Linked DNA regions of Homo sapiens. The protein of the gene in region 2 interacts with the protein of the main gene of each other region in a pairwise test. Each region holds a gene or a part of one and is shown on either strand. Other genes may lie near its edges. The genes, in order: SMARCA1 and BPTF.

Region 1 (11,670 bases), on a different chromosome or scaffold from region 2:
CTTAAACATTAAGTCTTATAAAATAGCTATCAACAACCAAAAAATATATTTCATCTATACTTATTTTTATAATATTACTGCAAAAACAACCCCTCAGAGGAAAAAAAAATCCATTTCAACCACCTGTTAAATTCTTGAAAGATCCAAGGTTATAAGAGTTTAGTTAAAATTAAAGCTAAAATATGTATTTTAGTAACTAAAAATTAAATAATTAAATGTATTATAGCAAGCAATATGTAAGTATAACTAAGATTATGCTGCTTAAATATGTGATATCTTCATGCATTGGACAAATATTCTTCCCTTTAAAGTGTATTGACATATTACACATTTCATTAATGTGTAGCATTTATTCATATGTCCAAAGAAGGAGAAAGAAACAAAAATACGTCAATCTGGCTTTGTGACTGGATTTCTCTCAGGTCACAAAGCCACAGTGGTATTACCACTGATATTTTCACCTCATAAATAAATATTTCTAGCTTAAAGCACTTTATTATGGGACAGAGAGCACCGAACCAAAATGAGATGTGACTTCTAGTCCTAACTATGACATATAGCTTCCCTGATCCTTTATTTCCTCATCTGAAAATGAGGAGGTTAATTTATTCAACAGAAAATATTGTGATAGATTGTATATTAAATTATTTTCCAATTCTAAAATCAATGATTCTCTATGCATTATATATATACATGTATTTTTTCATCTTTAACATCTCAACTATAAAAATTAATTACAGCATTCACTATCCTATCCAAGACTACATTTACCATTTTCTCTTCATATTCTGGGTCCATTTCCTTTTCAGATTTAGGCGCTTTAGCAGCAAGTTTGAGTTGAAATGAAGAAACGTTTTTCTAGAATTTCAAAGAAAATAAATGTCACCAAATTGCAAAGCAAGGTTCTTAAACTGGTCAATGCTCTCATTAGAAGAAGGCGGAAAGTAATTACATAACTAAATATATAAATCAATGTGGGACATGTATGGACCAATGATGAGAGCATGTCACAAAACAAGGCTTATGATTAATCCAGTTCTGTACACCTGAGGTCCAATAAAAAAAATCTGAAAAATTGTGAATGCCAAAGAAATATTAATTGGAATAAAACCCAAAAGGCAAGACACTGAGCTTTCTCATCCATTCTTTAATTTATAGTGTAAGAAAATGTGTAAACATTAAATAAGAGATTTTAAAATCTAGAAAAGGCTAATATCAACCACAAACCAAATAATTCAAAGAAAGTAAATATTAATTCTAAGAAACACTCCTTTATGTCATGGAAATACGCCACACTTTCAGAAAAAAAAACTGTGGTTTCTGTTCCTAAAACGATATTTTTAAAATTGTTTTCATAGTATTATAAGAATATTTAATTTTTTATGTAATGCAATGTGATCACATATACTTAATATAATAGTACAGTTTTAAACTTTTGGCTTATGTTAATTTTCTCTAACTGGGAAGAAAACTACTTTAAACTATTTATATTGCATAAACATCTTGTAGAAGCAATTTGTCAAGGCTACTTAACTATTAATGTTTGATATTTTTAAATTGTAATTTAGCGAAAACTAACATCAATCAATAACTTAATATAGAGATTATCTGGGGAAGGGGGTTATCTCATGCACCCTATCCTTTGTAAAGACAAGCCTGTACTGGCAAATATAAATACATATATAGAATAAGCCTCCTTCCCTATAAGAAACCAAGAAATAAAATAATAAAAACACAAATCTACCCACCAGAACCAAAGATGAGAGCATTTCAGTTTTAACACATACTTTGCATAAGAGAAAACACAAATTTGTTCGTGAAAACTATCATGGCTTTTGTCAACCTATTTATGAAAACTTAGGTCAAAAATCAACAGAATGTGACCTTAAACATAAGAAAAATATGGCCCCCATTATGTCTTCCAATATTTACTAAAATTTCTATTTTGAGGAAATCCAAACTGAGATTATGGAATTTGACCTTGTCCAGACTCTTACTTTGTAGCACTGATCAGATATCATTCAGTTACACTAACCCAAATAATAACCATCTTGATTTACAGCATCTGATACGTACACATCTATATGGAATGTTTTGAATGTAATCCTGGATGGATGAGAATAGAAAACTGCTAAAGAGCCCCTCAAACTCACACTTTCAGACTGCCATATATAATATAAATCATATTTATTTTCAAAGCAACAAGAAAAATTGGGTATCAAATCCATACGTTTATCATTCATTCCTTGAAAGGTTATATGAAGTGCAGTTTTCCAGTATCAAAACAATGAAAATTACTTTGCCTCATACGCACAAATATATATAATAATGTGGGAAGTACACTTACAGAAAATTAAAGCTTTAATCCTAGAAAAACATTTTACCCATTACTTTTTTGCTTACCTTGCGGTAGACTACCATCAAAATCTAATTATATGCTAATTAAAATCCTAATCTTGAGCAGGGCTATTAAAAGCTGTGGGTAATTACTTAATTGGCACTATCTTCCACAACAAATTTTAAAATACCTACCTTCTAAACCTTCTCTCGTGTGTGTGTGTGTGTGTGTGTGTGTGTGTGTGTATTCTCAAAACTACATTTTTTTCATACAAGAAAAGATGAAAAGTGACTAAGAGACTCTAATGAATTCCTTTGGATTTTGTTATCTGAGTCTAGGTGCCATGAGAATGCAGCACAAGGTCAACAAAATGGCTTGTTTTAAAGACCATGACCTTTTTCTTGACGTTTTCATGTCTACAGTGTTGGGTAATCCAACCGTCACTTAAACCAACTAAATTCAACAACCAGAAAGTAAGCAAAAACACCTTTGAGTAGGTAAATGTCACAGGTCAATTCACTAATTCTCATCTACTGTATTCATCATGAAAGCGCTCTCATTCAGAAACCTATTTTCTTTTTATTTGGTAGACAATTCCACCAAGTTTGAAAATCTGGCTTCCCATGTCACCGAGAATACAAGCAACAGTAAATGACATGGAAAGATCACTAGATGAAGGCACTCTACAAGAAGACACGGCAGAAACCAAGGACGAAAATGTCTTCCACTGCAGTAGCATCACTGATTCTTGGTGTGCACGTGTCATTATTTCCCTCTCCCTGTTTTATCACTGACACTTTTGTATTTTACAGTGGTTTTCAAATGAGTTTATGGTTTTGTTACACCTATAATCTTTATCATAAACTAACATATTATTTCTGGTGAAACTAGAGGTGTTTAAAAAGTGATCGCTAACAGCCTGGCAATTAAGGAAGAAGACAGAAAATTTTTATTTATTTATTTATTTTGAGACGGAGTCTCACTCTGTTGCTCAGGTTGGAGTGCAGTGGTGGGATCTCGGCTCACTGCAACCTGAGCCTTCCGGGTTCAAGCGATTCTCCTGCCTCAGCCTCCCAAGTAGCTGGGATTACAGGTGCCTGCCACCACACTTGGCTAATTTTTTTTTTTTGGTATTTTTAGTAGAGACGGGGTTTCACCATATTGGCCAGGCTGGTTTCGAACTCCTGACCTCAAGTGATCTACCCGCCTCGGCCTCCCAAAGTGCTAGGATTACAGGCGCGAGCCACCGCGCCCGGCTGGAAAAATTATTTTTAAAAATCAACACAACACTGCAAGAGTCTGGTAGGTGGTTACTTAATTGAGAGGGAACAACCTGCGGGATTTCAGGTGCCTTTGTGTCACTGTCAAAGTACACTAACTGATGGCCATGAAGAAGAGGTTAATCTGCACTTTTAGTATGCAATTTAAAGTGTCAAGGTAGTATGTAATGTATTTCATTTTTTAAGGAAAAATTAAAAATAAAAATGGATATCCAGGAAGTTCCTGACATACAGCACCTCATTTCCCTGTCCTGGGTGGACAAATGAAGTACTGGTAGGGCAATTTCTAATGAGGCAAGAGTTGACAAATATGTAGGCATCAACTCAGTGTTTATATTATATAGCTTTTTTATTGGTCTCCCGTTTTTTCACAATACAAAATTTTATACAAAATTCAAAAATTTATACAATCTGGAAATTCGACAACCTCTCCTGCCATACAAAAGGCAGTTTGGCACTCACATTTGCCCAGTCCAGGGAATAAAAGGCACACAGACATTTCCGAATTTCACAACATTTGATTTATATTGATGCTTGGTATTACACCCACTTTTAACCAACAATATTGTCTTACTAATCCAAGTACCGCGTAGATCTTACAATGTGTATGTTTTCTACGGTTTTCATTTAGCACTACAATTGTCCTTCTGTTTAGTCAACCTTGTAATAGTAAAATATGTCACAGAAGCAACTGCTAAATTTAAAATTACTCTTCTCATTTAAGGCGAAAGGTGTTCATTTTCCTCAAAAGCTTTTCATTTGGTCGTATAGTATCATATAATGATTCAGACAAAGCCACTTGAGATCTCTAAAGCATAATTACCCACCTTTTTAAAATTGCGATATGACTACTCGTAAATAGGAAAAAATCCACACATAAACCATTAGTTATGCAATTTTATCATACATCAAAAATGCTTATGCCCCATCCTATTTTTATGTCAATTTTTCAACGTTTTATAGTTTTATTTGCATGTCTCGGGCCACACGAAATGTGCCTTATGGAGATAATACATATTTTCTGGATTGGCTTTAATATGTGTCAGAGCAGTTCCCTTACGTTAGAAGCAGCTCATCTTGGCGACGCTGAGTTTTTTAAAAATTAAAGGAGAAAAAAAAAAAAAACCTGTGTGTGTCCAGGAGCCAGCAGCGCCCACTAGGAGAGGGAGGCGGAAGCCTGGAAAGCTTGGGGCCGGATTGAGGGACCATTGGGGTGGCCCTGGAGTGAAACCCTATACCGTCGGGGGCGGGGCAGAAGAGGGTGAGGGTGCAGATGTTGGAAATTTTCCTAAGCCAGCGTCCACGGTTCCTCAGTTTGGGGGGGCGGGGGGGTACGACGCAGAGAGCTCCTTTCCTCGGGGTGACACCCCCACCTCGGCAGGCGGGGTTCAAACGAACAAGGGATGGTTTTTTTCCTGCCATCCAAAAGACCGACATTGCCAATGAAAGAAAGAAATGTCTTCCCTGTCACCCTCCACCCAGCAACCACCAGCACCTTGAAATTCAAATTACAAAAAAAGCCCCAGCAAAACCCCTTTAGCGCGAGTGTGGGATTGAAGGGCCCAGATTTCCCAGGCAGAGGCCGACGGGAAGGCGGGGGGAGAGGGAGCGAGCGAGAGGAGAGGGAGAGGCGGAGGCTTTTTCCTGCACAGCCCCATCCCCCACCCCGTTACCCGAGTTCCGGGAAGGTGGAGGGGGTCGGGGGCTGTCGAGGGGCTCCCGAGCCCCCAGGCCCCGGGAGAGCGGGCACCCCTCCACCCCGCGCCGCTCCCGCCCGCGCCCAGCCCCGCCCCCGTCCTCCAGGCGGCGAGAAGGAAAGGGGGAGGGGAGCGAACGCCAGGCGGTTCCGCCGCCGACCCCCGCACCCGCCGCCCCTAGCCCCGCAAAGCTCCGCGGGTACCTGTCGGCGCCGAAAGGTCAGGGTTTGGGCCCCTCAGAGGGGCCAGGCACAGGATTTGTCCACCACACACACACCCCCTTCCTATTTACCTCCTTCTTCTTCTCGCCCTTCTCCGTGGCCGCGGTGGCTTCGGTGGCCGCGGCGGCCGCTCCCTCCTCCTGAGAGGTGGACGGCCCGGGCTGCTCGTCCTCTATGACCACGATAGTGGCGGTCGCATCCGCGGCTGCCACGGTGGCTGCCACTGCGGCAGTGTCCTGCTCCATGCCGTGGGAGCGGGAACGAGTAGGGGGACAAGGCAGGGGACGAGGGCTCCTGGGCGGCGGCAGTGGCTGCACTGGAAAGAGCTAGATGGAGCAGGGGTGGGGAATCACTCCGCTTCCAACCCCTTCGCTCAGGCCCCCCCTTCTTTAAATAACCCTCAACCCTGCCCCACTTCCGTCCACCCACCCTACGTCATGGCCTCCCCCCGTCACTCTCCCCCCTTCCTCCACCCCCCCCCCCTCAACGATCGCGAGACTCCCCTTCCCCACCCAGAGCCCGGGCCGGCCCCGCACGACCAACTGTTGCCTGAGTGTGGGGCGCGGACAGGGGTGGAGGCGGGAACCCACAACTCGCGGCCCCCTGAAAATCTCCTTTCCCACACGCCCCCAACAGTGAGCCTGAGCTCCCCTCGCAGATGCGTGCAGAACGAATCCTCTTTCCCTTAAATCTGCTCTTTGTACCTCGGGGCGCTCTCCCCTTCTTGCACAAAGAACTTTTCCTCTGCTCCTAACTGTACTGTAGAAGGTCTTTTTCACCATTTGCAAAGCGCGGAACCCCTCTGGGACTGCCCTTTCCCGGATCCCTAAAGAGGTAGGATTAGCGGTGCTGTTTCCACCTTCCTAAATTCTGCACAAAGAGAAGCACTCCTTGAATCTCTTGATTGCAGCTGCAAACACATTCACTTACAAGGCAAAGTCTGACTCTCAAGTTTTACGTATATTTGCTCTATTTTCACCTCTGGTACCTCTCAGGTAGCCAATGTGCAGGAACACTTCTCTTACCTTCACCACTGCATTTTTAAATTCCTAGGGGACAAGGTTACCCACCGAACCTGGGGCAACATGTGGTAGGCACTCAATATTAGCAATTGAAATGAATTACTGTGATTTTTTGGCACAGGTTCTATTTGCACCTCCATTATTATTTGGTAATAATACAACACATAATATGAATGATCATGGATATAAAATCATTTCGTGATACAGAATCAATCAGTGTCCATCAGCAGGTGAATGGTTAAGGAAAATGTGGTCTGTATACACAATGGAATACTATGTAGCCATAAAAAAGAATGAAATGTCATTTGCAGCAACATAAATGAAACTGATGTTTATTATGTTGCACAAAATAAGCCAGGCACAGAAAGACAAATAACACATGTTCTCACTCATATGTGGGAGCTAAAAAGTTGATCTCATGGAGGTAGAGAGTAGAATGATAGGTACCAGAAGTCTGGGAAGGGTGTGTGGGGTTGAGGCGGATCAATGAAGAGAGGTCAGTTAATGAGTACAAATATACAGTTAGATGGAAGGAATAAGTTATAATGTTCAAAGTAGAGTAGGGTGACTCTACTGAACAAACAATGCAATGTATATTTCGAAATAGCTAGAAGAGAGGACATGAAATGTTCCCAACACATAGAAATGATAAATACTTGAGGCAATGGACACCCTAAATACCCTGTCTTGAGAAGGACCCTTAAGGACAGCAACAGTGGAGGATTTATTTTTCACCATGTTGCAGCTATTGAAAGATAGAATTCCTCTTTCCTTGCATGGGGCTGCAAAGGAGAAAAGCTCAAGAAATATTTGTTGTGTATTGGTGTGTCCCTGCTTTCAAGTCAGTTTTGTTCCACTGTATTTCTCATTGTCAGTGTACATTATTTCAGTTACATCGTGGGTTAAATGCACTTTTGTGAGGAAATCTGGGAAACACATCCCTTTATAACACCTTTTTTTTGTGGGGACATGTGTTCCATGTTCCAAAAAAAGAATTTAAAAATTTATTTGGGGGCAGAACATATTTGTACGTTGGCAATTTTCCATGCATGTATAATGCAATCCTTCCTTTTCAAGATGACGCGGCTGAAAGTGCTACCAAGTATATGAATTTGGCTGGAAAGGTCGATGCTTGGTCAACAGACCTTGCCACAGGATTCATGTAAATATTGCCCTTTGGCTTGTGGCAACAGCTGCTATTTACAGAGCATGTGCTATCCTTATTTGTAAATCTGCCTAAAATTCATGATCTGTAGACTTTGTTCAACAAGAGTCATCTCATTTCTGAGCCTACTCAACACCTTGCTCTATCTGCTACTACTTTCCCCAATTATGTCTTTTCATTTGAAATGGTCTTGGATTGCTCTATTCCATTGGGGTTGGAGAACAGAGCAAACTTTTATAAAGAACTGGCTCTCACGCCTGTAATCCCAGCACTTTGGGAGGCCGAGGCAGGCTGATCACAAGGAGATCCAGACCATCCTGGCCAACATGGTGAAACCCCTTCTCTACTAAAAATACAAAAATTAGCTGGGTATGGTGGTGCGTGCCTGTAATCCCAGCTACTCGGGAGGCTGAGGCAGGAGAATCGCTTGAACCCAGGAGGTAGAGATTGCAGTGAGCGAAGATCAAGCCACTGCACTCCAGCCTGGCAACAGAGCGAGACTCCGTATCAAAAAATAAAATAAAATAAAAATAAAAATAAACTGGGAACCTCAGAACTAATCTTGGTCTACCAGTCAATACGTCCATTTTGGTAGATTATAGAGGTTATTCAACAATCATTCTCGAATAGCCAAACTTGTTTAGTAGCTACTAGAACATGTGTCCACTGGTGATATTAAATGTTTTACAAAATTCATAAAGGAAAAGCCAAAGGCTTCGTGTTCCTTCTCTTATTTTGCATCTGAAATTTGTCATTGAAACCACAGTATGACTTAAAACCACATTGTGATCCGACTGATTAATGTTCTTCAGAAACTGGCAGAAAAGATTCTGGACACACTGTCTTGCTTACAGCTACAGTAACCATTCTGTTCATATCAGTAAGCTTTCTCACTATTTTTTTAAAGACATTTATGATAGTGGCATTTTTGAAAATGTGATATTTCCTTGGTGATCTGTATTTTAAGGAAAAGGTCATGGTAATAACTAGTATATGTCTACCATTTCTTGAGCACCCACTATTGTATTAGGCACTGTGCTAGATTCTTTACATATGATATTGCTAATCCTCCAAATAATTCTATGAAATAAATATTATTATCCCTATTTTACAGATAAGAAAATGGAGATTTAGGCTAAACAACTCATCTAAGGTTCCACAGCTAGTAAGTGACATTCAAACCCCAGACTGTCTAGTCCAAACCTCGTTTTTCATCTTTATTAAGTTCACTGGTCTTCACAGGGCTTCCTCCTTGACAGTAGAAATTATACTGAGAAAATAACTGAAAAATATTTCTGCCATCTATCTCCATGGTGTTCCCTCTAAAGCAGCCGTGTCCGACCCTTTGAATGCAAGAACTTTTTTGCCTATCTGTGGTGGTGGATATCATGAAAATTCGGCATGGACCTTTTTTTTTTTTTTTTTTTTTTTTTTGAGTATCAGCTATCATTGGCATTAGTATTTTATGTGTGGCCCAGGACAATTATTCTTCCAGTATGACCCAGGGAAGCCAAAAGGTTGGACACCCATGCTCTAAAGTAAACTCTCAAAACAGTAATGGGACTCAGGACAGTTTGTGCAAAGAAGGGGAGAGCGTAACAGAAAGAACTGAGATGTCCAAGAAGAAAGGATTGGCAAAACATTGTATAGTACATTAATAAATGGAATGTTATGCAAGCATTAAGAATGATTATGTGTTGACTAGACGCGGTGGCTCATGCCTGTAATCCCAGAACTTTGGGAGGCCGAGGCAGGTGAATCACAAGGTCAGAAGTTCGAGACCAGCCTGGCCAACATGATGAAACCCCATCTCTACTAAAAATACAAAAAATTACCTGTGCGTAGTGGCGGGCGCCTGTAATCCCAGCTACTAGGGAGGCTGAGGCAGGAGAATTGCTTGAATTCTGGAGGGGGAGGTTGCAGTGAGGCGAGGTGGCACCACTGCACCCCAGCCTGGGCGACAGAGTGAGACTCCGTTTCAAAAAAAAAAAAAAAAAATGAATGATTATGTAATCAGGTATCTGTTGACATGAAAATATATTCCTGTATATTGTTAAGTGAAAACATACAGGCAAAAAGTTAGAATGATCCCATTTTCACCACACACACACACTGAAAAACACTATTTACATAAATGTATTTCCACAAAGGACAAACCCTGGAAGGTTCTACTCCAAATGTTAAACCAGTAGTTACATACAGCAAGGTGGTGGGATTGTGTGTAATATTTTTTTCTTATTTTGCTTTTCTATTCTAGTTTTCCTCAATGAAGGTGTTTCTTTATGTAATAGATAAATACCATTTTATAGATGAATCAAAACGTATTACTCAAAACTGAACAAGTTGAAATTAATCCTTAACAGAAGGAGTATGACCTTGTAGATAGGGTGAGTCAAAAACAAAAACAAAAACAAAAAAACAAAAAAAAACAGGCCAGGTGCAGTGGCTCACGCCTGTAATACCAGCACATTGAGAGGCCGAGGTGGGTAGATCATGAAGTCAGGAGTTCGAGACCAGCCTGGCCAAGAGGGTGAAACCCCGTCTCTTCTAAAAATAAAAAAAATTAACTGGGTGTGGTGGCAGGCACCTGTAATCCCAGCTACTTGGGAGGCTGAGGCAGGAGAATCGCTTGAACCCGGGAGGCGGAAGTTGCAGTGAGCCAAGGTCACACCACTGCACTCTAGCCTGGGTGACAGAGCAAGACTTCGTCCCGAAAAAAAAAATGAACAGAACAATTTCACACAGAAGAGACAATGCAGTAGTAATGTATAATGTAGCAGAAGCAATGTGAGTATTATACGGTTCACAATAATGTTACTTGATTGAGGAATGATTTTTGACATTGTTTTAGGCGGTATATAAAATGATTTTTCTACTTTTAAGCAATTTTGCAAAACTAGCTCAGGAAAAAAAATGAGATTTTCTTTCTTTCTTTTTTTTTTTTTTTTTTTTGAGACAGAGTCTCGTTCTGTCGCCCAGGCTGGAGTGCAGTGGCACAATCCCAGCTCACTGCAACCACCACCTCCTGGATTCAAGCGATTCTTCTGTCTCAGCCTCCCGAGTAGCTGGGACTACAGGCGTGTGCCACCACGCCTGGCTAATTTTTGTATTTTTAGTAGATATGGGGTTTCACCATGTCGGTCAGGCTGGTCTGAAACTCCTGACCTCTTGATCCGCCCGCCTTGGCCTCCCAAAGTCCTGGGATTACAGGCGTGAGCCACTGCGCCCAGCAAGATTTTCTTAAATGCTCCCAACCCTGACATTCTACCCACCCATACATGCCCTAAAACACGAAACACATGCTAAATAATCTGAATTGGGTTTGCTAAAGGCCCAATATTTTTTCACTATTTAATACTTTTTATTTCCACTTAAATAAGTCAGAGTTAGTTTCTATTACATGCAAGTAGAAATTCTCATGGATGCACATGTTACCATTGATTTCCATGTATTTACTATGTATGTAAAGGCACAATATTATCCATGGCGGTATTATTAGAGGCAAAATAGTACAATTATTACCAGCTTTGGCTGTAGAGTCAGAAAGACTTGGAGTTCAGATTCTACTAAATTGTTTAACCTCTCTCTCCTCTGATTTGCATCTGTAAAATGGGTATAATAATACCTAATTCAACGTGATCTCATGAGGATTTAATGTAAAATATGTGTATAAAACATTTAACATGATCCCGGCATATAACAGATACTCAGTGGATGGTAGTTAACAAAAAGAAAAAAGCAGGGTGCTGCTTTGAGTTTTGGCTAAGCCAAGGAAAAAGCCAGAATATGATAAAGTAAGTCTGAAAGTCAGTGCTAAACTAAAATAGGAATAAGGCGGAAGTGCTGTTTGCCAAGTTCATTTTCTCTGTTCATTATCATTTATCAGGGTCAGCAATTTGGTGCAGTTACACTTCCCCAAAGGTAAGTTCTGAAGAAAGGCAGTAATG
Region 2 (11,196 bases):
AAGGTCTCAAACCCACAGTTAACCATGAAATATTCGCATCAGTTCCATTAAATTCGGAAAGCATACTAAGATGCCTATCGTTATAACTAACATTTAACATTGCTTTGGAGGTGGTACACAATGCAATTTGTTTCTTTTTTTTCTTTTTTTTTTATTACCCAGGTTCCCATCAATGGTAGAGGGCAATGTAATTTGAAGAGAAAAAGGAGATACAAATGTAAGAAAATCAGATGTGTACATATGATTCATTTTTGCAGATGACACAACTTTATTCCTAGAGTAAAATTATTCCAATCAAAGCAAAAGCTACAAGAAACAATTAGAAAAAAGAATAGGTGGCTAAATACTAAATTAATTTTTAAAATTCATTAGTTTTCAACTAGAAGCCCCAGCAGAGCAGGTATTTTTATACACAAAGATAAAATCTGATTTCATGGCATAAGTGAAAATATTTAGCAAATGAATTATACTTCTTCCAATTTTGTAAAAAGTATGTATGCACACATGTGCTGGGTGTGGTGGCTCACGCCTGTAATCCCAACAGTTTGGGAAGCCAAGGAGGAAGGACTGACTGAGCTCAGGAGTTCAACACCAGCCTGGGCTGGTGAAACCTCGTCTCTACTAAAAAAATATAAAAAACTAGCCAGGCATGGCAGCGAGCACCTGTAGTCCCAGCTACTCTGGAGGCTGAGGCAAGAGAATCACCTGAACCTAAGAGGTGGAGGTTGCAGTGAGCCAAGATTGTGCCACTGCACTCCAGCTTGGGTGACAGAGCGATACTCCAGCTCAAAAAAAAAAGTATGTACATACACATGTTTACACAAAGATGGTTAACTAATGAGAGGAACCAAAATATTAATGTTCTGGGTTTTCTAAATGTTCTACATTACTTTCCTGATAAAGAGAAGAAGCAAAAATAAAATTTAAAGGTTTTACTAGATTTTCAGAAGCATTATTTGTAAAACTCAAAGCCTTTTTCCTAAACGAATTATCGAAATCACAGACTAATGAATGTCAAGAGCTCAAAAATGGGGTGAATAAACTATGGCCAGCCACAGCCTGTTTTTGTAAATAAAGTTTTATTAGAAAGCAGCCATGCTCATTTGTTTACTTATTGTCTATGGCTGCTTTCCTGCTATGAGGGCAGAGCTGAGCAGCTGTGACAGAGCCAGATGGCCTGCAAAACCTGAAATATCTACTAATTGGTAACCTAAGAACAAGTTTGCCAGTCCCCTGACCATTAGATCATCTAGTCCATCCTATACTGTACAGGTGAGTAAACTGAGGTCCACACAAGAATGACTTCTCTATGGTCCAAACTCAAGTTAAGTAAGAAGCAATGAAGAACTCCATTTCCATGGTACTTTCCACCACTTGGCCAGGAAACTCTCAAAACAGACATCCTGCCATTTGGGAGGTAAAACTCAGGGTCTCATATCACATCGCAAGTGAGTGTATTTGCCAATAAATTGATGAGAAGAGGACTCTGGGCCTAGTCAGTATCCAAGAACACCTGCTAAAGGTCTGAGTAAACCTTAGTAGATTCTAGAAAAAGTTAATTTAAAACCACATAGGCTGGGCACGGTGGCTCACGCCTGTAATCCCAGCACTTTGAGAGGCCAAGGTGGGCAGATTGCCTGAGGTCAGCAATTCCAGATGAGTCTGGCCAACATGGTGAAACCCCGTCACTACTAAAAATACAAAAAAATTAGCCAGGCGTGGTGGCGTCCGCCTTTAATCACAGCTACTCAGGAGGCTGAGGCAGGGGAACTGCTTGGACCAAGGAGGTGGAGGTTGCAGTGAGCTGAGATCATGCCACTGCACTCCAGCCTGGGCGACAGAGCAAGACTCCATCTCAAAAAAAAAAAACAAAACACATAAGCACAGACTAGGGAAGGTTTAAAAACAGATGTTGAGAGTATAATCTGGTCCAGACTTTTAAATGGTACACACTATAATGCAACAATCCAATCCCAGTCCTAGGAATCTACCCTACAGAAACACCAGCTTAAGTGACTAAAGGTACATCTCTAGCACATTCAGGACAGCACTGTCTGTAAACGCAAAAAGAGCCTGAATTCTCAATAGGACTAGTTTTTTTAAGGCAAATCAATATTATCAGCAAATGCAGTTATGTATTAATAAAAAGGGGGGCACTTCATGTCTTTACCTTAAAGAGGGTCCTAACCTGAGCATGTAAATTTGTGACCCTTGCCATAAACAATCTCCACTGTTAGGTTTCTTCTGAGACACAGAGAAGATTCACAACTCATGCTATTAAAGCAATTAAGGAAAACCAATATACCTGGAAGAAGGTAATCTTCCAAGTTTACAGAGGATCAGAAATCCAATGCATTTCACCTGGATAATTCAGACTCAAAAGTTCAAATATGTATGTGAAATTACAGTAAAACCACCTTAAAACATTTTACTCTTTGCACAGCACTTTGAAAGCACAGTACAGTCATAAGGTGGAGAAATGAGTAACTTACTGAATAAGACTTTAAGAAGTGTGTGAAATAATTTTGCTGTCTACAAAAACAGAAAACTGCACTTTCTTTCTGCCTACTTGTTCTCTTGATTACTGTGAGAAGAGTGTTGAAGTCTACGATATTGTTAAGGATTTGTCTGTTTCTCCTTGGAGTTTTATCAGTCCTCATGTATTTTGAGGCTCTATGAATAAGTTCATAAACCTTTAGAAAGGATTGTTTTAGGATGAGCTAAGATGTCATTCACTATTTTAAATGTTGGACCATCTCTTGAGACAAGTATCTATGCAAGAATTAGAACAGGACAAGAGAAATTCCACACAGATTAATACATGCATTTCTGAAATACTTCTTAACTTCCATAAATAGAATATACTATATACTATACACAGACCTCAAAAGAGGCACTATGAACATACTGAAATCGAGCAAGAAGCCATATTTCTAGTAAAATATATAAACTGCACCTACTGAACATTGCCATTTGGTATGAATCACATGGCCATGCCGTTTCCCAAGCGTGTGAATTACAGAACATATCCATGAGTAGAAAGAAGTCTAAGTATAACTTTCTTAGCAAATCTCAGGGGGTTCCATAGATAAATAATTTGGCCAGTGACTCCTAAGACGTTTTATACAGGAGAACCCAGACACACTAGGACATACTAACATCTCGCAATTCAGTTTGCATATCAGCTTTTACACTTTTATAACACTGAAATTCTCTGAATTATCAAATTTAATTTCTCAACCAAAAGTCTCTGAATCCTAATCCTTCCTTCTCTTCTGGCCTATATATATAACTTTTAGCTTAATTTTACCAGGACTGGGCCAGGCATGGTGGCTCACGCCTGTAATCCCAGCACTTTGGGAGGCTGAGGTGGGCGGATCACAAGGTCAGGAAATCAAGACCATCCTGGCTACCATGGTGAAACCCCATCTCTACTAAAATTACAAAAAATTAGCCGGGCATGGTGGCAGGTGCCTGTAGTCCCAGCTACTTGGGAGGCTGAGGCAAGAGAATGGCGTGAACCCGGGAGGCAGAGCTCACAGTGAGCCGAAATCGCGCCACCGCACTCCAGCCTGGGCGACAGAGCGAGACTCCGTCTCAAAAAAAAAAAAAAAAAAAATTACCAGGACTGTGGCAGATTTTCTAATCACATGTTAACTTCCTCTTCACCCTACCACCAAGGACAACAAATAATGGAAAGTCATCTCACACATGACCCCAAATCTTATTGCAGAAATGCAATACCATCACATACACAAATAATGCTGGGCCCAGAGTCTCCACAAAGGAGGACTTCACTCAGCCAGAGTGCTGGGGCTACCCAAGCTGTGCAGGATTTAGGGCAAATAAAAGGCTAGAGAAAAAGAGATGTTAGGTAAATTCCCCCTGGTCTAACAGAGGCAGACTGACTACAATGAGTCCAGGAGAACTTTCTGCAATGATATGAAATGCCCCAAATGCTCTACATTTGTGTGGTGCAATACATGTGGCTATAGAGCACTTGAAATGAACATATAACAGCTAGTGCCACAGGAGAAACTAACTTTTCATTTTACTTAAATTTTTTTTTTAAGAGATGGGTTCTCACTCTGTCACCCAGGCTGGAGTGTGGTGGCATGGTCCATAGCTGACTAGGGCCTCTAACTCCTGGGCTCAAGCAATCCTCCCACCTCAGCCTCCCAATTAGGTAGGACTACAGGCATGCCAACCTCTGCCAAACTATTTTAATTCTTTTGTAAAGACAGTGTCTTACTATGTTGCTCAGGCTAGTCTTCAACTGCTGCCTTAAGTGATCTTCCCACCTCAGCCTCCCAAAGTATTGGGACTACAGGTATGAGCCACCACGCTTGGCCTGCCTAGTTTTAATTAATTTAACTCTCCACATGTGGCTAGTGGCTACCATACTGGACAGTATAGAGCGTGAAAAGAATCCACAGGCTTTCTTTGACTCATCATTCAGTTCCACAATTACTTGTGCTGCCTACTGCATTCAAGAGATTGAACCAGGCACTACAGAGACTGAATGAGACTGTCCCTGCCCAAAGTAGGTTGTAATTAAAGAAGGGCCAGATATTAAAAGCCCATTTCAGCTCCATGTCTTAACAGATAAAGATAGAGATAAAGGGGTTAAATAATTAAGAGGATAAAATAATCCTTCCTAAAGGTTTATGGACTTTAGGAAGGAGCCTCAAAATACATGAATATAAAGCCTCAAAATACATGAAGATTGCTAGAACTTCAAGGAGAAACAGACAAATCCTTCACAATAGCTGCAGACTTCAAGACTTCTCTCAGTAATCAACAGAACAAGCAGAAAGTCAGACAGATCTTAGTAACATTATCAACAAACTTGACCTAATTGACATTTATGCAATACTCCACTCAACAAGAGCAGAATACAAAATTCTTTTCAAGTACATATGGAACATTCACTTAGACTGACAAAATTTTGGGGTGCAAAACAAACCTCTAAAAATGTTTTATAAAATTAAAGTCATACAAAGTATACTCTCTGAACAAAATGAAATTAAATTAGAAATCAGTAACAGAAGGATAGCTAAAAAATTCCCAAATATTTGGAAACTAAAACACTTAATGCACATGGTCCTGGAGGTTATACGGGTGGGAAACACAGGAACTTAGCCCCACCTGGCGGTAAAGGGAATGGTGATCAGAGAAGGCAGGCTGGAGAAGGTGATGGATGGATGACTAGGAGTTAGGTGTGTGAGAACTACAAAGAAATCAGTATTACTAGATCCATTCGAGATGAAGAGAAGAAATAAGGAGTGAATAAGGAAAAGAGAAATAAGGGAGATTCAGAAGTCAGTTCATCCTTGAATCCTTTTCTCCCACTCACCACATCCCAGCCTAACCAATCTATCACTAAGGATTCATTCTAACTCCTGAATTACTTTCTTCCAGGCACGGTGGCTCACACCTGTAATCCCAGCACTTTGGGAGGCCAAGGCGGGTGGATCACTTGAGGTCAGAAGTTCAAGACAAGCAAGGCCAACATGGTGAAACCCTCTTCTAGTAAAAATACAAAAATTAGCCAGGCATGGTGGCACACACCTGTAGTCCCAGCTACTCAGGAGGCTGAGACAGGAGAATCACTTGAACCCAGAAGGCAGAGGTTGCAGTGAGCCAAGATCATGCCACTGCACTCCAGCCTGGGCGACAAGAGACTCTGTCTCAAAAAAAAAAAAAAGAAAGAAATTAAAACTGAATTTGCAATAATACAGCAAATAATCCTAGTTATATACCCAAGAGAAATGAAAACATACGTACAGATAAAAACATGTACACGAATGTGCTCAGCAGCATTATTCCTAATGGCCAAAAAGTGGAAACAGTTCAGATGTCCATGAACTTAAGAAATGGATAAGCAAAACATGGTCTCTGGACACAGAGATGTGTGCCTGTAATCCTAGCTACTCTGGAGGCTGGAAGGCTGAGGCAGGAAGATTGCCTGAGTCCAGGAGTTTGAGGTCAGCCTGGGCAACACTGCAAGACCCTGTCTCCATAAAAAAAAAAAAAAGGCTGTATAGCCATACAATGAAGTGTTATTCAAATATAGTACTGATACATGTTAAGATATGCATAACGCTTGAAAACATTAGGCTAAATGATGGAAGACATATATTATATGATTCCACTTTATAAGAAATGTCCATAAGAGGCAAATCAGGCGGGGCGCAGTGGCTCACGCCTGTAATCCCAGCACTTTGGGAGGCTGAGGCGAGTGGATTACAAGATCAGGAGTTCGAGACCGGCCTGGCCAACATAGTAAAACCCTGTCTCTACTAAAAAAAAAAAAAAATACAAAAAATTAGCCAGGCACAGTGGCAGGTGCCTGTAATCCCAGCTACTTGGGAGGCTGAGGCAGGAGAATCGCTTAAACCCGGGAGGTGGAGGTTGCAGTGAGCTGAGATCCCGCCACTCCACTCCAGCCCAGGTGACAGAGCGAGACTCTGCCTCAAAAAAAAAAAAAAAAAAAAAAGAGGCGAATCAACAGGGAATCAAAGTAGATTAGTGGCTGCCAGGGATGAGCAGGAGGGAGGTGAAGAACAGGGAGTGATGCTGACGGTGCGGGCTTCTTTTGCGGGGGTATAAAAACGTGCTGGAATTAGGTAGTGTTAATGGTTGCACAACTCTGTCAATATACTAAAAAAACCACTAAATTATATACTTTACAAGGGTACATTTTACAGTATATAAATTATATCTCCATACAGCTGTTACCTTTTAAAAACTGAATTTTCATAAATATTGCTTGAAAATCATTCAGCAATTCAGAAGATGTCCAATAAATTTAGCTATTACTGTCACTATTTTTAAAATGTGACAATCACAAAATAATAGTTGAATATAACTTACTATCTAGAAAAACATAAAAATTTTAGATATATACCAGCAGACAAAACAATTAAAACATTATAATTATATTTACGTGCATTTTAATTATTTCTATACGGTCACCTTCGATCTTTTAAAGTGCATTTTAATGTATAAGTGGTTTTTTTTTTTTAAATTAAGAAACATGCTGCCTCCTGAGGCTTATCATTTTAAAAAACCAAAAGCATGAAAAAAATTAGAGGCCGGGTACGGCAGCTCACCCCTGTAATCCCAGCACTTTGGGAGGCTGAGGCAGGCGGATCACAAGGTCAGGAGTTTGAGACCAGCCTGGCCAATATGGTGAAACCCTGTCTCTACTAAAAATACAAAAATTAGACGGGCGTGGTGGCAGGCGCCTGTAGTCCCCTACTCGGGAGGCTGAGGCAGGAGAATCGCTTGAACCCAGGAGGTGGAGGTTGCAGTGAACCGAGATTATGCCACTGCACTCCAGCCTGGGTGACAGAGTGAGACTCTGTCTCATAAATAAATAAATAAAATTAGAATAATCAGTGTCAGCATTAAGCTAGTGCTGAGATCATAACCACCGTAAGCAGGCACTCAAAGAGAAGGAAGACCAAGGTGCAAAACAGGACTCAGGGAAGATCTCCCAGGAAGAGGGATTCCAGCCTGGCTAAGGAGCAGGAAGGGAAAAGGGCATCAGCTAGGATTTGCTCCTGTGTCACCCAGAATACTACTTGCCCACCATGACTACCAGTCTCTCACCCCCATGTCTCCACCATTAAGGGTCTTTAGTCAAAGGGAAGACACAGGGTCTTGAGGAAAGAGGAAAGGAGGACCTAACAGAAGAGACCAGAGTTCCTGGTCTTAACATCCCCAGTCCTGTGATACGCATGTTTCAATACAAACTTCCAAACACGCCCGTGGGTGAGCAGAATAGAAAAGCACGAACTGTGTGCAAGACTATTTATTAATGCATACCTAGGACACACCTCTCTACTACTCACAAATCATATTGCCCAACTTTTTCATAACCCTTTTGGCTCTCATTTTGTTTAATTCTCATGTTTAACCTCTTGAGGTGCTGATAACTGAAAACAGATGTCATTAATTTCCCTTATAATCTTGACCTCCCCATTGTTACTGAAAGTGCTACCATTCTTAGGGAGGCATATGTAATGCATTCCTCTCTCTACACATCTATGTGTCAAGGCCTGAAGAACTCTAAAGTGCCTCCTGGACTGATCTTCCATCCAGGGCTACAAAACCCACCAGCTATCTCGTCCTTGTCAATCCATCCTGCAGAAGAGAATCTAAGCTATACTTCGTGGCATCCCTCTGAAATCATACCCCACTCTTTCAAGATCTTCCGATCATCCCAATACCCAAAATTAAACAGATGTGAAAGAGAGAGAGCTTCAGGCCATTTCCCCAGTAATTCTCTCAATTTGGGAGAAACAGCTACACCAGTGGTTCAACAGCATCTCTGTGATTTGATATGGTTCTGTTTCATGTTTGTGCATGGTGCTGCTGGGAATACAACATAACTCCTCTGGGTGTTCAGGAGTGAAAAAGGGCTGAGGATCACAATCCAGCCCAATCCCTATTCTACAGAAAAGGGGGAAAGTACAGTTGCTATAGCCTGATCCTCTAGGTACTGCCCAACACAGCATACAAAGGAGCTTTGGTTTATTTCCTATTCACACACTCAGGCTCTTGCTAAACCGAGTTACTTGAGACTGCCCACACTTTACTATCAGTGCCTGCTGCTCCCTCCCGCTCCCGCTCCCTCTCCCTCCCTCCCTCCCTCAATCTGCCTTTCCTTACTCTCCACATGCCCATCCAGGAAGTGTATGCCCACATCAATCCCCTTAAATGGGGTATATTATCTCGCCCTCCTTAAAATGCCCACTGCACTGCGTACCTCGCATGCAGCAATCAGAAATTATACTGAAAAGATATTGACACTGATAGGAATAATATTGTCAAACCAGTGACAAATTCTGCTTGAATTTGAATCTATGGTTCATTCATGGCATCTCTGCCACTGATCTCCAATGTCACAATCCTTAGAGGACATAAATCACTAACTCTCCCAGGGTAACACCAGGGTTTTTGTTTCATGAAGTTATCAGAGGTTCCAAGTTTTAAAATTCCAGGTAAGTATTCTCAGAAGTCTCACACAAGACTGAGACTGCAACACAAGAACCATTCTGTTTTAAATATAATTTCTTAAAATTAGCAAATGCTTAATTTCAAAGTGCTGTCAGAACCTTACCAAATGCCTATTGAAAACACTTCCTATACAATCCTTCTCAGTATATTGGCAATGTCATAAAACCTATAGGCTGAAGTAAGTCTAAATTTAAAAAGTAAAAATGAATTAAAGCATTATTCAGCGATATGCCTTTAGCTTAAGCAAAACTAGGTGATTTCAATTTTATACTAAAAAGTTGGCATCCTTACATTTTTTCCATAAAAGGAAAACAATCTTCAATGAATAAACCTTTCATGACTTTAGTAATGTCAACTAATGTCTTTGCATTGTTACATTACCTACAAAATACTGAGTTATTTCTTGTATTAGGAGTGAGCTATTTCTTATGTTAGGAATGTCACGTCAGTACTTAAACCAACCCTGTAAACTATAAAAATTAATCAAATTACTCTAAATTACCAATAAGGTAAATTCCTCTTTCAGCCTTCACAGTACAACAGGATTCAAACTCATCAATCATACTTCTTTATGTGTTATTCGGATATCTTAAACCAGTTCTAAAACTTTTTTTCTTCTATCTACACATTTACCTGACAGCCTTCCTCCAGGAAGTACAGACTAAAAAACCAATGAAACTGGTACTTAGCCTAATCAACTCACTGTCATGCATTGTTACTCATTCCAGGCAAGTGGGCATGTTCTAAAAGTTTAGAACTCAAAATGTCACATCCGGGGGGTGGGGGGCAAGGGGAGGGAACTTAGAGGGCCGGTCGGTAAGTGCAGCAAGCCACCATGGCACACGTATACCTATGCAACAAACCTGCACGTTCTGCACATGTATCCCGTTTTTTTTTAGAAGAGATAAGGAAAAAAAAAAGTCACATCTATTTTACCATAATCTTTAAAAATAATGTGTTGCAAAAGGTAAAGCATCCAAATTAACATCACAGCCAATAAAGGAAAATGCCTGGCAAGCAATATGAAATAGCAACTCAAAAACAAAGTAACTCTTGCAATGAAAAACGTTCACAGAAAAAAAAAAAAACATTCACTGATCAAATTGTCCATCAAAAACCAATTAGAAAAAACAACAACAACAAAAAACAAAAACAAAAAACAATTAGACCAATTTTTAGTTTCCTAAATCCAAAGTATTTAGAGATTATGACACCCACTGTAGAGTTATCAAAACTTCATCTATTACAAGTTCTTATCTACTAACAATAATTTATCCAACCAATCTTTGATGAGCACCTGCTATGTGCAAAACTCTGTTACAGGAGCTGCAGGGGGAATAAGCTCAATACTTATCTCTAAGGAGTTAATAATTTCATATAAGGATAAGACAAGTAGACACAAGTGTCATTAAGAAAAACAAAATGTCAGACCAGGCACGGTAGCTCATGCCTGTAATCCCAGCACTTTGGGAGGCTGAGGCAGGTGGATCAACTGAGGTCGGGAGTTCAAGACCAGCCTGACCAACACGGAGAAACCCCGTCATTACTAAAAATACAAAATTAGCTGGGCGTGGTGCTGCATGCCTTTAATCCCAGCTACTTGGGAGGCTGAGGCAGGAGAATTGCTTGAACCCAGGAGGTGGAGGTTGCAGTGAGCCAAGATTGTGCCATTGCACTCCAGCCTGGGCAGCAAGAGCAAAACTCCTTCTCAAAAAAAGAAAAACAAAATGTCACAAAAGTATCAAAAGTAAACACATTTTTCTTAAAGGACACCTAGCTACAAATTGTAATTTAAGTCAGCATATGCACACCCATCAATCTTAAATATTATTTGCTATGCCTTCGAATAGGACTTAAAGTTAGCTGAACTGTCCTGCCAAAATGTCTCAGCTCTTTTTAACCAGAAAAAACTTCCTCCAGGGGTGTATGCAATTCAGTCTCCGTGTTTCAATTACCGGCTCTGGGTGCAAAGAAGACCAACATGTGATTTCTTAAGGTAAAAATTATTACTATAAAAAACGTACTAGGCTGGGCGCGGTGGCTCACACCTGTAGTCCCAGCATTTTGGGAGGCCGAGGTAGGCGGATCACGAGGTCAAGAGTTCGAGACCAGCCTGGCCAACATGGTGAAACCCCATCTCTACTAAAAATACAAAAATTAGCCGGGTGT

Evidence for each region.
Region 1: the proteins of BPTF (region 2) and SMARCA1 interact in binary tests that used the Homo sapiens proteins (3 or more experiments, as listed by UniProt).

Annotation. Positions count from the first base shown.
Region 1 is NC_000023.11:129,517,590-129,529,259, forward strand, and holds the start of SMARCA1 (SWI/SNF-related matrix-associated actin-dependent regulator of chromatin subfamily A member 1), read right to left. Parts: upstream 5,902-11,670; 5' UTR 5,782-5,901; coding exon 5,608-5,781; intron 1,059-5,607; exon of another isoform or gene 987-1,058; intron 859-986; coding exon 772-858; intron 1-771.
Region 2 is NC_000017.11:67,828,087-67,839,282, reverse strand, and holds part of BPTF (nucleosome-remodeling factor subunit BPTF), read right to left. Parts: intron 1-11,196. UniProt on the Homo sapiens protein: Regulatory subunit of the ATP-dependent NURF-1 and NURF-5 ISWI chromatin remodeling complexes, which form ordered nucleosome arrays on chromatin and facilitate access to DNA during DNA-templated processes such as DNA replication, transcription, and repair.